4 linked regions of the Homo sapiens genome follow. The gene in region 2 interacts genetically with the main gene of each other region. Each region holds a gene or a part of one and is shown on either strand. Other genes may lie near its edges.

Region 1 (3,500 bases), on a different chromosome or scaffold from region 2:
CACCTCACTTGTAGATGAAGTACAAAGCAGAGAACAATTCTTAAACAGAAGCTTCACAGCAGCCACTTGAGTCTGGGCACTGAGTGCCACAGAGTGGGAAGAGGATGCTGTAGATTTGAGTGTTAGCCCTGAGGGATGCAGTTGAAACCTCACATTCCTTCCAAATCAGCTGTGCTGGCTCAGACTACTCCACTTCATGGTGATCCAATGTCTACCTCCAGCAAGGAAAGATGAGGTCAATAAGGAAGTCTGACACAAAATAACATGGGGACTCAGCCAAAAGCTGGGAATAGAGAAATGAAAAGCAGCTTGAATTCGAGCATTAAGAGAAAAGAGGGCTTGTGCTGGGCTCCCTGCCTTCTTGACACAAACATGACACTAAAGAAAAATAATCATGTAGGCCTGGCACGGTGGCTCACGCCTGTAATCCCAGCACTTTGGGAGGCCAAGGTGGGCAGATCACGAGGTCAGGAGATCGAGACCATCCTGGCTAACACGGTGAAACCCCGTCTCTACTAAAAATACAGAAAATTAGCTGGACGTGGTGGCGGGCGCCTGTAGTCCCAGCCACTCGGGAGGCTGAAGCAGGAGAATGGCACGAACCCAGGAGGCGGAGCTTGCAGTGAGCCGATATCGCGCCACAGCACTCCAGCCTCGGGGACAGAGCGAGACTCCGTCTCAAAAAAAAAAAAAAAAAAAAAGAAAGAAAAGAAAAATAATCGTGTGAGGGCCAGGGCTGGGATGCTATTACTTGCACAATTTCAGAGAGCTCAGTTTCCAGGGCTGAGTATATGAAATGTTGTCGTGTGGTTCTCAAACACACACAAAAATAATCAGCCGGTGACCAAGTCCTATATTCCCAGAAACCAAAGAGGAGGGCTGCAATCTACATTTTTAATAAATACCCCAGGTTATGATGACATACTTGGTCCAGAGACTACTATGTCAGAGACACTGCTCTAGGGCAAAAGAAAAAAAAAGGATAGGGGTCAGAACTAAAAGGGTTTTATCACCTAACTTTCAAACCAACCTCATAAGATTATGATAAATAACAAATCACTACACATAAACTGCTTAAAACAGTAAACTGTTTTACTGTTTTTTTACAACTATGTTAGCTATTAGTGATACTATCATCATGATAATAATTATTATCTAAGGTAAAGTCGTCTTTACTATGTCGTTCACCTTAAAAGTCAGTTTTGAACTTAATACCTTTCTTCATTCCGCAATGAATAAACTGTGTTAGTTTATGTAAAACTCCTCAAGAATAGGGAACCTGTCTCACTTAAATTCGTATCACTAGCTTGTTGCATGGTTCCAGGTACCTATCACAAAGCAAGTGCTCAAAAAATCTGTGAAATTGAGCCACATTGCACAGACCATGGGATTCAAAAACGACATTAGTAATGATGGTGGGGAATGCAAGACCTTCCTTTTAGAGGGGACTATGTTGGGTTTTTTCCTAAAAACAAAAAAGGGAAAACCTGGGCTCATAGGATAGAAAGCTTTATAAAGTAATTATTCCTCTGGAGTTTAAAAAAAAAGAACTATTATTAAATATACATGCAGTGTATTACATGAAAATGCCTAAGGCTTTCTTTATGCACCACTGTGACCACTGTCTTGATAAACTCCACACACACAACAGAACAAAAAAGACACACACACACACATAGAGAGAGAGAAGGAAAGAACACATGCCATCACAATGCCATTACCTTGGGTCTACATTTGGGATACTCATGGTCACCTGGGAGCACCTTGAAAGAAATTGGTACTCGATCAGCTCTCCGATTTGCACAGAAGGCGTCCCAGACAGCTCGATGGACTGCATTATAAACTACATCCAGGCCCGTTAGAGTAACAAAGGCCATAGGCCGGCAACATAATTCCACAGGGAAGTCCCACTGTGTGGGGCTCATGTTTACGATGTCACAAAAAACCTGAAATACAAATGTTAATACATTCATAATTAATTTTTAAAAACTCATATTCATTTCTCCAGCCTGGGCAACAAGAGCAAAACTCTGTCTCAAAAAAAAAAAAAAAAAAACAACTCATATTCATTTCCAATATATGAATCTCTATTTAAAAATCATTACAAAAAAATAATCATTACAAGGCCAGGCATGGTGGCTCACGCATACAATCCCAACACTTTGGGAGGCCGAAGCAGGTGGATCACTGGAGGCCAGGAGTTAAAGACCAGCCTAGCCAACACAGTGAAACCTTGTCTCTACTAAAAATACAAAAAATTGGTTGGTCGTGGTGACTCACGCCTGTAATCCCAGCACTTTGGGAGGCCTAGGTGGGCAGATCACGAGGTCAGGAGATCGAGACCATCCTGGCTAACACGGTGAAACCCTGTCTCTACTAAATATCCAAAAAATTAGCCGGGCGTGGTGGTGGGCGCCTGTAGTCCCAGCTACTCAGGAGGCTGAGGCAGGAGAATGGCGTGAACCCGGGAGGTGGAGGTTGCAGTGAGCCAAGATGGCGCCACTGCACTCTAGCCTGGATGACAGAGGGAGACTCTGTCTCAAAAACAAAAAACAAAAAATTAGCTGGACATGGTGGCACACACCTGTAACCCCAACTACTTGGAGGCTGAGGCAGGAGAATCACTTGAACCCAGGAGGCGGAGGCTCCAGTGAGCCAAGATCACGGCACTCCACTCCAATCTGGGTGACAGAGTGAGACTCTGTCTCAAAAAAAATAAAATAAATAAAATAATCATTACAAAAAGGCAAAAGGCTTTGAGTATCTGCAAACTGTCAAACAAACAGAAGAGAGAAAAAGGGAAAACTTTAATTCCTGAATTAGATCTATTAAAATGTAATAACTATATGACATTTAAGAAAAAATCTTTCATGTTAAAAATGAAGTCAACTTTAAGACAAATCGGCATTTTCAGTAATGTCTCAAAATGCACACAGAACTTTGAAATTAGTAGACCAAGAAAGCAAGAAGGTGATAAAATTAAAATAGATCTACATGATCTATTTCAACTATAAAAGAAAAATATATTGAAAGAAAAATATAAAAGAAAAACAGTTGACTTACATATAATAAACTTCCCCTAATTTCTCTGTAATTGCTAATATTGAATTTCTGAATACCTAGGATATTATTAAAATAGCCTTTAATTTATGTAATTATCTAAATAGTAGCTATGTTGTCTCATTTCCCACAATATAAAATTTACTCTTTAAAGAAAAATCTGTAAGGGAAAAACTAACAATGAATGGAAACCTCTCGGAGGATGTTTCCACTGCGTCCTTTAGCTAAGAATCAGTCCATAATAAATCTAACGTATGCCCTGACTTTATAAGTATATAAAACTATGTTTATCCCGAACAAGACTGTCATTATATTTTTAATATAATCTTACTTGCAAAAGGATGTAACAACATGAGGTTCTTTTTTTTTTTTTTTTTTGAGACGGAGTATCACTCTGTCACCAGGCTGGAGTGCACTGGCCCAATATCAGCTCACTACAA
Region 2 (3,500 bases):
ACATTTTTTTTGTTGTTGTTTCTCCAGTTTATTGAAGACTTTAAAGGGTGAGGGAAAATTGAAATAGAAGTTGGGCAAATATAGATTTGCCCTTTACCCAGCAATAACGTACGTAAAGTGGGAGTGAATAGTCTTGAGTGAGTCTCTCCTATTCAGAGAGTGAGCTGGGCAGAGAAAAGTTGGTTGAAGAAGAACAGGGTGGTAGTCTAGGGGGACTGAAGATGGAGGTCCAAGAAAAAAGTGTGTAGCGATGAGTTTAAATCATTTTTGTGTGATCCCAATGTAATTTTATGAATTGCAGGGGAAAACAATGAATTAATTTTAAGGTCAATATGTTTTAGTTCAAGATATTGAAAAAGCTTTCTAATTACTTTTTATTTCATAGTTTTTTTTCTAATAGAAGCATTCTATTACAAAAAGGAAGGTGGTAATCTTTTTTCACCTTTTAGGACAGCCTCCTAATGTTTGTGATGTATTTAAATCTTTTGTGTATTTTCAATCTATGTTAAGTCCCCTTGTTACATATTCCAGTTATACTTATTCCAGTTGTAATTTACTTTGTAATTATTTATTGTCTATCTCTCTTCCCAGAATGTAAGTTCTGTGAGGGTCAGGGGTCTCTTTCCGCTTCTCCACTGTATCCCCAGTGCCTGGCTTAGTGCCTTCTATATAGTAGATTGCCAATGTTTGTTTGTTGATTGAATGAATGAATCTTAGGATTGGTACTTTAAAAAATGCTAAGAATACAATTAAATAAATCAAGAAGTTTAAGTAAATTAGAGTGTACAAATAATGATGTTATTATAGTAGTATTTCTTGTTTTGATTTAGTACATAAAACTTAGAATTCTTATTCATAGATACAGGTCATTAATTGAGACTATTTTTAGTGAAAATACCAACAAGCAATAAATTGTCTAAAATTGCAAGTTAAGTTTTTAATTATATTTACATATAAACTATCTCAGAGTATGATTATATAATTTGACCACTATGAAAGTAACTGAAACCTGGTTTGGCTAAGGGTGGTTATTTTACATTAAGTATAATATAAATTAATTGAGATGTTATACATCAAATCCCAGATAAGCTATGATTTTTTTGTTGTTGTTAGCCTGAAGGAGAGGCAAGAGATTGCCACAACTCTAAATACCTCAGATAACATCAGGCCATCTGTTGCTTTTTAATGCAGATATTTTAGCATCAAAAAGCAATGGGAAATGTAGAAATGGGAAAAACACTGAAGGCAGTTTTGTTCTTGCAGTCTGTCAGATTTTCTCCTTTTCCCAGGGTAGGGATCGAGGTTCTGAATAAGCCATTTCATTTTATAATAAAAAGCAAAACTCCCTCACACATGCTGGTTATTCTAGAAAAATTTATATATATATCACTAGGGACTTAACTAAGAATGTGATTTTTTATCTTTTTAAGGGAGAGTCTCACTCTGTTGCTCAGGTTGGAGTGCAGGCATGTGATCATAGCTCACCGAAGCCTCAACCTCCTGAGCTCAAGTGATCCTCTTGCCTTAACCTCCCAAGTAGCTAGGACCACAGGTGGGCATGACCACACCTGGCTAAGTTTTAAAATTTTTCTGTAGAGATAGTGTCTCACTATGTTGGCCAGACTGGTCTCAGATGCCTGGGCTCAAGCAGTCCTCCTGCCTCAACCTCCCAAAGTGCTGTATGATTGTTTTAAATAGGAAAAAATTTAGAATTTTATAATATCAAGGCACTTAATTTTTAGTTAGTGATATACCATCCAAAAGGCATCTGAGGCTGGGCACGTTGGTTCATGCCTATAATCCCAGCACTTTGGGAGGCCAAGGCAGGAGGATCGCTTGATCCCAGGAGTTCAAGACCAGCCTGGGCAATGTAACAAGATCCCATCTCTAAAAAAATAATGATTAAAAAAATAGAGACAAAAGGCATCTGAAACATAGGAACCTAATTAAAACATTATATGTATATACATATTTTCATTAAGCGTATGTGTTAAAATATCATCTAGACCAATGTTTTAAGGGATTGTTTTTCTAAATATATTAATAAAACTATTAAAAGGCCAAAAAGCTGTCCTAACTTATGACTTTTTTTTGAACCTAAATTTAGATGCCCCTCAAGGGATGTATTATTAGTAACAATCATTCTTGGTAGTGTTGCCCTTAGTCATATGTTGTCCTCTGAGATTGTGTATTCTTGAATAGATAACAAGTGTATTTACAAATCTTCTTTGCCAGTTTCAAACAAAGTTTCTTAAAATTTCCTAGTACGGACTCCAGAATTCCTCAGCAGCATCCTTTCATCAACCTACCCAACCTGTAGCTAAGAATACCTCCATGAGCCCTCGACAGCGCCGGGCCCAGCAGCAGAGTCAGAGAAGGTTGTCTACTTCACCAGATGTAATCCAGGGCCACCAGCCAAGAGACAACCACACTGATCATGGTGGGTCAGCTGTACTGATTGTCATCCTGACTTTGGCATTGGCAGCTCTTATATTCCGACGAATATATCTGGCAAACGAATACATATTTGACTTTGAGTTATAATATGGTTTTGTGACTTATGAGCTGTGACTCAACTGCTTCATTAAACATTCTGCATTGGGTATAATCTAAGAATTGTTTACAAAAAGATTATTTTGTATTTACCCTTCATTCCTTTTTTTGATCCTTGTAAGTTTAGTATAAATATATCTAGACATTCAGACTGTGTCTAGCAGTTACGTCCTGCTTAAAGGGACTAGAAGTCAAAGTTCCTTGTCTCACTATTTGATCTGCTTTGCAGGGAAATAACTTGTTTTTTCTCATGTTTCATCTTCTTTTTATGTAAATTTGTAATACTTTCCTATATTGCCCTTTGAAATTTTTGGATAAAAGATGATGTTTTAAGTTCCAATGAGTATTACTAGTTACTCAATACCACTTATTGAGTACTCTGTTTCTACGTATGTAGAATGTATAGGGATAGAAGAGTTGAAAAGGGAAAGCAAAACTCCTCAAGTAGCTTCCTTAAAATGTCATTCATAGGAGATGTACTGGAATTGCTCATTCTGTGACTTTATTTGTGTCCTAAACATTCTTCAGTGAAAATAATTTTATTTCAGTCAAACATTTATGAGGAAATGAGATCACATCTTTGTCACTGGATGCTACTTGAAGAGGGAGTACTTTGTAACCACTTTGATATGCTGTTATCACCACCCCCTGCCCTCTGCTGCCATAATCACACAAATTTAAAAAGAAAGAAAACAGTCTTCCATAGATTTTTAAGGAAGAAAGGGCCCAAGCCAGGAGATCGCTTGGTTTTCTTCCAGAAGTTAAATGGGGGGATCTGAAGATTTGAATGTTTGGTCTGCTTTGAAATGTATGTCTTTTGGGATGTATTATATGCCTAGCTTTATAATCAGTATAAATTTTAATTATTCCAGGAATATGCATAATATTGAAATATTTCATGTCCTATTTTAATAGAAAACCTCAGGGCCCAAGTAACAGTGATAGAA
Region 3 (3,500 bases), on a different chromosome or scaffold from region 2:
AATTACTAGTATATTTACTATTAATAAATAACTTATTTAAAAAAATAATTCTGGGCACATGTTCTCAGGACCTCCTGAGGCTGGGTCTCCAAATAAAAAACAAAAAAACCCACTATTCTTTGGATTCCTTCAAACAGTGAATCTTTAGAATGTAGACTTCAGATATTTTTAATAATTCTCTTTGGAATTTGATTCATTCTTATAAAAATTCGGCCTTTAAATGTAGGTCTTTGTTTTAAGAATATGTCTTTTTTTTTAAAGGTAAACTTTGAGGATGATTCTCGTGGAAAATACCTTGAACTTCTAGGATACAGAAAAGAAGATCTAGGAAAGAAGGTAAACTTTTGGGAAAGTTAGATGGCATGCTCTTTATGAATCATACTTTTAAAAAATAAAGTTCTACACAGATTATCTCAAATCACCCAATAAACATTTAATAATAATTTGTGTTTGGTTGCCAGCGTTTTTTCCCTTTTTCTTTTTCTTATTCTCCATCATTACCCACAGTGGTTGCCAGAGTTTTGAATACATATTGATAAATGACTATGTAACTTGTATTAGCCTTTCATCATTCTTTGGAAATGGCTAGAGTTTTCTATAGCATTGCAGGTTGTTGCATGTGTGGTAGAGGTATACTGTGCACTTTAAGTGCATATTGAAGATTAGTGCTCTTTTGATGTCAGGCAGAACTAACTAAGATCACATCACAACCCCACTGCTTAGTGGCTATGTCTTTGCTCACTCCTTTAGAGTTTTATATTTAACTTTATTAGTAGTCTAAACTTCTTGAGGCTGTAACTTTTTTAGGCTTGTAAGAGATTGATATGAAAGTTTTACTTGCATGCCTGATGGCAAAAAATGAGGAAATAGAATGATTGTCGGATTATTTCTAATTACTTCCATGTGAAAGAAGCTAGCACCATGGAGAACCAGTTCTGCATAGCTTTTTTAATTTTTTTAAACATACTATTCCTATAAGAACTTTTGTGGATTTTCGCCAGTGAGAAGCAAGAGGTGAACATTTGCTGGATGCTCTGAAATAGAATTCCATGTAGTAGGTGAGCTGTTATTTTTATTTCAGATTGCTTTGGCCTTGAACAAAGTGGATGGAGCCAATGTGGTAAGAAGGCCTTTAAAAATAGCTACCTTCTAAAACTTTGGCTAGGTCATAACGAAGAAGGAAATATCATTTAAGAAATTTGTGTTTTATGCTTTATGGTATAAAAATAAATGCTTATTCTAGATATTTTAATAAATTAATAATTCTCATTTTAAAATAACATGAGCTTAGCTGGTAGAGCATTCCTTTCTCTTGACATACATATTTGAATTTTGTAAAGCAGGAAAAACAGAATTAATGACTACTCAAATACTTAAGATAAAATTTTTTTTTTTTTTTTTGGCCAGGAAAAAAAAAATGGTAGGAAAGAATGGGAAAGTGGGCCGGGTGTGTTGGCTCATGCCTGTAATCCCAGCACTTTGGGAGGCCGAGGCAGGTGGATCACCTGAGGTCAGGAGTTCAAGACCAGCCTGACCAACATGGTGAAACCCTGTCTCTACTAAAAATACAAAAATTAGCTGGGCGTGGTGGCACATGCCTGTAATCCCAGCTACTTGGGCGGCTAAGGCAGGAGAATTGCTTGAACTGGGAGGCGGAGGTTGCAGTGAGCCGGGATCGTGCCACTGAACTCCAGCCTGGGCGACAGAGTGAGACTCGGTCTCAAAAAAAAAAAAAAAAAAAAAAAAAAGAATGGGAAAGTGTTAGCAGTAATAGTTCTTTGCTTTTCCTCTAATGGTATTTCTCAAATAAATTTACTCACTGTTGCTTCTTATGATTAAACTAGCTCTGAATGTTGTTGGTTGGGTCTTTTGTCTTCCTGGTTCACTAATAGCCTTTTAATACTACATTCTTCACCTTCCCCTGTAATTGTTTTGTGTACCAAAGGCTCTTAAAGACTCTGACCAAGTAGCACAGAGTGATGGGGAGGAGAGCCCTGCTGCTGAAGAGCAGCTCTTGGGAGAGGTACTTATTTTTTTTTCATATTATATTGGACAAATTTGTGATATTTGTGTATCTCACATTAAAATAAGGAAAATTTTCTTGACTACTTATGGCAAAATAAAGTTGAAGTAAATTGTTTTCTTTGAGATGTTTAGGATAGGAATCTATCTACCTATACTGACAGAAGTATCATCTCCAGACTCTAGTTCTCCAACCTTGTTTCTGGATTATATGGTTTAAAACTAACAGTTGATGTGAGATTAACATAATTTGGTCAGATGACTCTCAGGATGTCAAACTGAAAAGAGATTTTATTCAAACATCCTCACTGCATTGCATTGCATGTAAAGTTAATGTTTTTCTTGGCCTATAATTTTGGGCCAACTATCAGTGGCTAATAGGCCTCTGAATTAGTACTGAACATGGAGTTGAAGTAAAGGATATTTCACTAAACTTATTGTCATGATTTTCAATAAATGTGTCCTTAGTTGATAATTTTTGTAAATAATTGAGAAGAGTCCTTGAACACAGAGTTACATCATTAATTTTTCCTTTTAATTTTCTGGGTGTTTTTTTTTTTTTAACCACTAATGAACAAATCTGTAATTTACTTTTCTTGCTTTCTAATTTTATTTCATCTTGGAAAATTAATCAACAAGTTCTTCTCATCTCATCTTTGGCTTTTTCATTGTTCTTTGTGATATCTTGACTATGGAATGTTATGTATAATTTTTTACTAAGTTATAAAAATAAGTAAATTTAGTCTATTACAAGATGATTGCAAAAATCATTCTCCTTAGAAGTGGATCTCCTAGAGTTTAATTAACAAGGGAATAAAGGATATGGATAAAATCTTTACTAAAACTTTGAACTAGGCCAGGCATGATGTTTGCTTATGCCTGTAATCCCAGCACTTTGGGAGGCCAAGGTGGGAGGATCACTTGAGGCTATGAGTTCAAGACTAGCCTGGACAACATAGTGAGACCCTATCTCTAAAAAAAAAAATAAAAAATTAGCCAGGCGTGGTGGCACATGCCTGTAGTCCTAGCTATTTGGGAGGCTGAGGTAGGATCACTTAAGCCCAAGAGTTCGTGGTTGGAGTGAGCTATGATCACACCATTGCATTCCAGCCTGGGTGACAGAGCAAGACCCTGTCTGATTTAAAAAAGAAAAGAACTAATTTTGAGAATATTTAGACAGAATTGTAAGATACATAGAGAAATGTACTTTCATTTATGTACAACTAGACTATGTATTATCAAATAGAAGATCATTTGGGAATGCACTCATGAATAATAGGTAAGAAATATATGCATTTAATGAAATAGTAGTCATCAATGTGTACTTTTGGTTCTTTGAAAAAATGTGTTTAAGGAGGTAAAATCTTCCCCTTTGTCTCAATGAGCTATTTGTTTCATAGTAGCTTACACATTGAAGGCACTCAATACCTAATAAATTGTGCATTTTTTGACCTTATATCTCGTTCAGAAGTCCATAA
Region 4 (3,500 bases), on a different chromosome or scaffold from region 2:
TTATTTTTTTCTGCTGTTGTTAGGATGTGAAAAAGTCTGTTTTATGGCTCTTACAGCTTTGGGCCTGATTAGCAAGCCTAACTTGCAGATATTGGAAGGCTCCATTCTTGAGCCTATGCACCATATGCTGGAATTTATTATCAGTGACTTAATTTGGGGCAACTTGAGGACTTCTGTGCTCTAAGAGAAAAAAATAGGAGTCTAGACTTCTTGTTCTCTTCCAAACTGGAATTCAAAAGCCATGGTATTGGGGTCTCCATACTGTTTAATTGCCTGGATTATGAGGAGAAGACAGTGTCACAAAACTGGTTCTTAGCCTGGTTAAACCATATTAGCAAAGTTAAACCATATTAATGGTTTTAGTTTTTACTACAGAGAATGACGTGAAATCATCAAATATTCTATCTATATATTTGTTTGGTGGAATCCATATAATTTTTTTTTTTTTTTTGAGACGGAGTCTTGCCCTGTCACCCAGGCTGGAGTGCAATGGGAGTACGATGGCGCGATCTCAGTTCACTGCAAACCTCAACCTCCCGGGTTCAAGCGATTCTCCTCCCTCAGCCTCCTGAGTAGCTGGGATTACAGGCACACGCCACCACAGCCGGCTATTTTTTGTATCTTTAGTAGAGCCGGAGTTTCACCATGTTGGCCAGGCTGGTCTCAAGCTCCTGACCTCGTGATCTGCCCGCCTTGGCCCCCATAAAGTTCTGGGATTACAGGCATGAGCCACCGCACCTGGCAAATCTACATAATTTTAAGTATAAAATGATTAATTTTCTTCCAGACAGATTAGAATTTTTTTTTTTTTTAATGAGATGAAGTCTTGCTCTATCGCCCAGGCTGAGTGGCATGATCTTGGCTCACTGCAACCTCTGGCTCCCAGGTTCAAGCTATTCTCCTGCCTCAGCTTCCCTAGTAGCTGGGACTACAGGCATGCGCCACCACACCCAGCTAATTTTTTTTTGTATTTTGAGTAGAGATGGGTTTTCACCATGTTGGATTAGAATTTACAGTGATTTCATTGTCCTCAATTTAGTTGCCTCAAATTTTTAAATATTACATTTTTTGTTAATTCATATGAAAACAATATTTTAAGAATCATTCATTTACTCTTTGTTTCTGCTAAAGTTTTAAGACTATTATTACTTAATATATTAATATCGATACTTCCAAGTCCTTTATATCTATTGAGTTAAACATGTTGACTACTAGCGTTTTTAGGCAGGAAGTGATTTTATAGGGCATCTAGTTCAGATCCCTTATTTTGGTAAGAGAAAGAATTTTCAGGTTTGTAGATTACATTCACATTTACCAATAGCACTTTGGTAAAATACCACATTGGGATTGGTTTTTGTTTTTTGTTTTTCCTTTTCTCCCTGCCTGTTGGTAGGCAGGGTATCCCTACCATATCTTATTCTTTGCAATACTTCTACTTTAGGTCCTGTTTCCCTCTGATTTGGCAAGAGAGACAATCTTGCAATAATAAATTAACATTCTAGCTCTGAGGAGTTCAACTAAGAAATTTTCTCATCACTAAGAGTAACTGGATTACTGCAGAATGACTACAGAAGTAATATTACATTATCGACCATGTGAGAGTGATCCCACACAACTGCCAAAAATTGCAGAAAAAGCAATTCAAGACTTTCCTACTCGTCCGCTATCAAGATTTATACCTTGGTTTCCATATGATGGGTCCAAGCTTCCACTCAGACCTAAAAGATCACCACCTGTGATTTCTGAAGAGGCAGCTGAAGATGTGAAACAGTACTTAACCATTTCAGAACATGATGCTAAGTCACACAGTTATGATTGCACAGTAGATCTATTGGAGTTTCAACCTAGCTTGAAAAAGCAGCATTTAACCTGGTCACACACACTGAAGGAACAGACTAATTCTGGAAATCTGGGTAAACAATCAGAAAAGGGAAAACAGCACAAGAGGAGATCTTGGAGTATTTCCCTTCCCAGCAATAATTGTACTAAAAACGTTTCTCCTTTGTCTAAAAAATTGCAAGATAGTTTAAAGGCACTAAATTTACACTCACTTTATAGAGCAAGATGGACAATAGAACACACTATTTGTAACAGCCAAACTCTGGAAGACATTTGGACAAAACTCAATCAAATTATTAGGCACAATGAACTTCCATCTTGTAATGCTACAATTCAGAGGCATTTAGGCCAAATATGGGTGTTCTGTGATATTATGTATTGTGAATATGTGGGAAGTCTTCTTAAAGGAAGATTAGCTCTTACTGGAAAAATTAATTTATTTGTGCATAAATATGGTGTTATTTTTAGTATGTAATGAATTCCACTGATTGTCAAAAAGAATATTCTGAATGAAATGAATATGGATTGAAATAGATAAAATAATTTTTACAGGTTTTAAAATTTTTAATGACTTTTTAGAATTCCTAGGCTTGTCAATTAAGTCAAGAAATTGCTGAGTTCTGCTTATTGGCAGCCTTCTTTTAAATGTGATAAATTATTGTTTACACTGAATTTGAAGGTAAAAATGTTCTGTTCCTTTTGTTACAAACTGTGATTGAATTAGTCATGAATTAAGTTGTATAGTTTGGATTTTGGTTAATCTCTAAAATCTAATTTTACTGTATTTTTTTCCTTACCTCAAGTGTAATTTTTTAAAAAATAAAACTCGAAACAATTCTCTTTGGAGTGCTATTTATGTGGCATGAATGTAGTTCAAAGTGGGAGACTAGTCTAGATTTATAATGATGTTTCCAAAGATATGTAATAACAATTGATAGGCTGTTTTCAAACAACGATACAAAATGTATACTTTGCCTAAAACGATAATGTATCCTGTTTTGAAGGAAAGTATCAAATGTTGAATGATTGTTTATTTCTTCTAATACAGATAATTCAGTATTAATGATAGTTAGTGCTAATTATTACTTGGCTGATGATTGGAGTCATTGTAGGTTCCCCATAAGCATAATCTTGTAATTGGTTTTACACATCACCTCATAAAAATGCTCAAAGGGATTAAAACAGTAAAAGTTTTGTAGAAGCATGTATGTTTGTTTAACATATTTAAATGCCTACTTTGCACTAGGTGCTAGGATATACTAGGGAAGGAGACAGACATGGACCTTGCCCTCACACAGCTTACATGTCATTACTACTATTAAACACACCAGCTCCCTAAGAAAAATAAGACTGCACTTAACTAGGAATATAGACATGTTTACCTTGAAGCTCAGTGCCTGTCATGGTAGGAGCTTGATAATGCATGGTAAACATTCCCTTCAGAGGGATTCTTCATAGCCTGAGATGGCTGAGGTTGCTTAAAATGGAAGCCCACTAATTTTTTTTTCTTTCTAACTTTTATTTTAGGTTCAAGGGGTACATGTGCAGATTTGTGATATGGGTAAATTGTGTGCCACAGGGGTTTGGTGTACAAATAGTTTTGTCACCCATGTAATCAGGATAATACCCAATAGGTAGTTTTTTAGTCCTCACCCCCTGCC

What was found.
Region 1: changes in UBE2J1 (region 2) and TRAPPC11 together harm fitness less than expected from each alone (positive genetic interaction), as found in Homo sapiens cells (one large-scale study listed by BioGRID).
Region 3: changes in UBE2J1 (region 2) and SEC31A together harm fitness less than expected from each alone (positive genetic interaction), as found in Homo sapiens cells (one large-scale study listed by BioGRID).
Region 4: changes in UBE2J1 (region 2) and TRAPPC13 together harm fitness more than expected from each alone (negative genetic interaction), as found in Homo sapiens cells (one large-scale study listed by BioGRID).

The regions. Positions count from the first base shown.
Region 1 is NC_000004.12:183,662,293-183,665,792, reverse strand, and holds part of TRAPPC11 (trafficking protein particle complex subunit 11), read right to left. Parts: intron 1,947-3,500; 5' UTR 1,926-1,946; coding exon 1,722-1,925; intron 1-1,721. UniProt on the Homo sapiens protein: Involved in endoplasmic reticulum to Golgi apparatus trafficking at a very early stage.
Region 2 is NC_000006.12:89,328,723-89,332,222, reverse strand, and holds part of UBE2J1 (ubiquitin-conjugating enzyme E2 J1), read left to right. Parts: intron 1-2,235; coding exon of another isoform or gene 2,236-2,265; coding exon 2,266-2,544; 3' UTR 2,545-3,500. UniProt on the Homo sapiens protein: Catalyzes the covalent attachment of ubiquitin to other proteins. Functions in the selective degradation of misfolded membrane proteins from the endoplasmic reticulum (ERAD) and is essential for cells to recover from ER stress.
Region 3 is NC_000004.12:82,860,154-82,863,653, reverse strand, and holds part of SEC31A (protein transport protein Sec31A), read left to right. Parts: intron 1-261; coding exon 262-336; intron 337-1,081; coding exon 1,082-1,120; intron 1,121-1,945; coding exon 1,946-2,023; intron 2,024-3,500. UniProt on the Homo sapiens protein: Component of the coat protein complex II (COPII) which promotes the formation of transport vesicles from the endoplasmic reticulum (ER).
Region 4 is NC_000005.10:65,628,027-65,631,526, forward strand, and holds part of TRAPPC13 (trafficking protein particle complex subunit 13), read left to right. Parts: intron 1-1,441; exon of another isoform or gene 1,442-1,561; coding exon of another isoform or gene 1,562-2,314; exon of another isoform or gene 2,315-2,902; intron 2,903-3,500. Other genes in the region: SHLD3 (shieldin complex subunit 3), read left to right, coding at 1,562-2,314.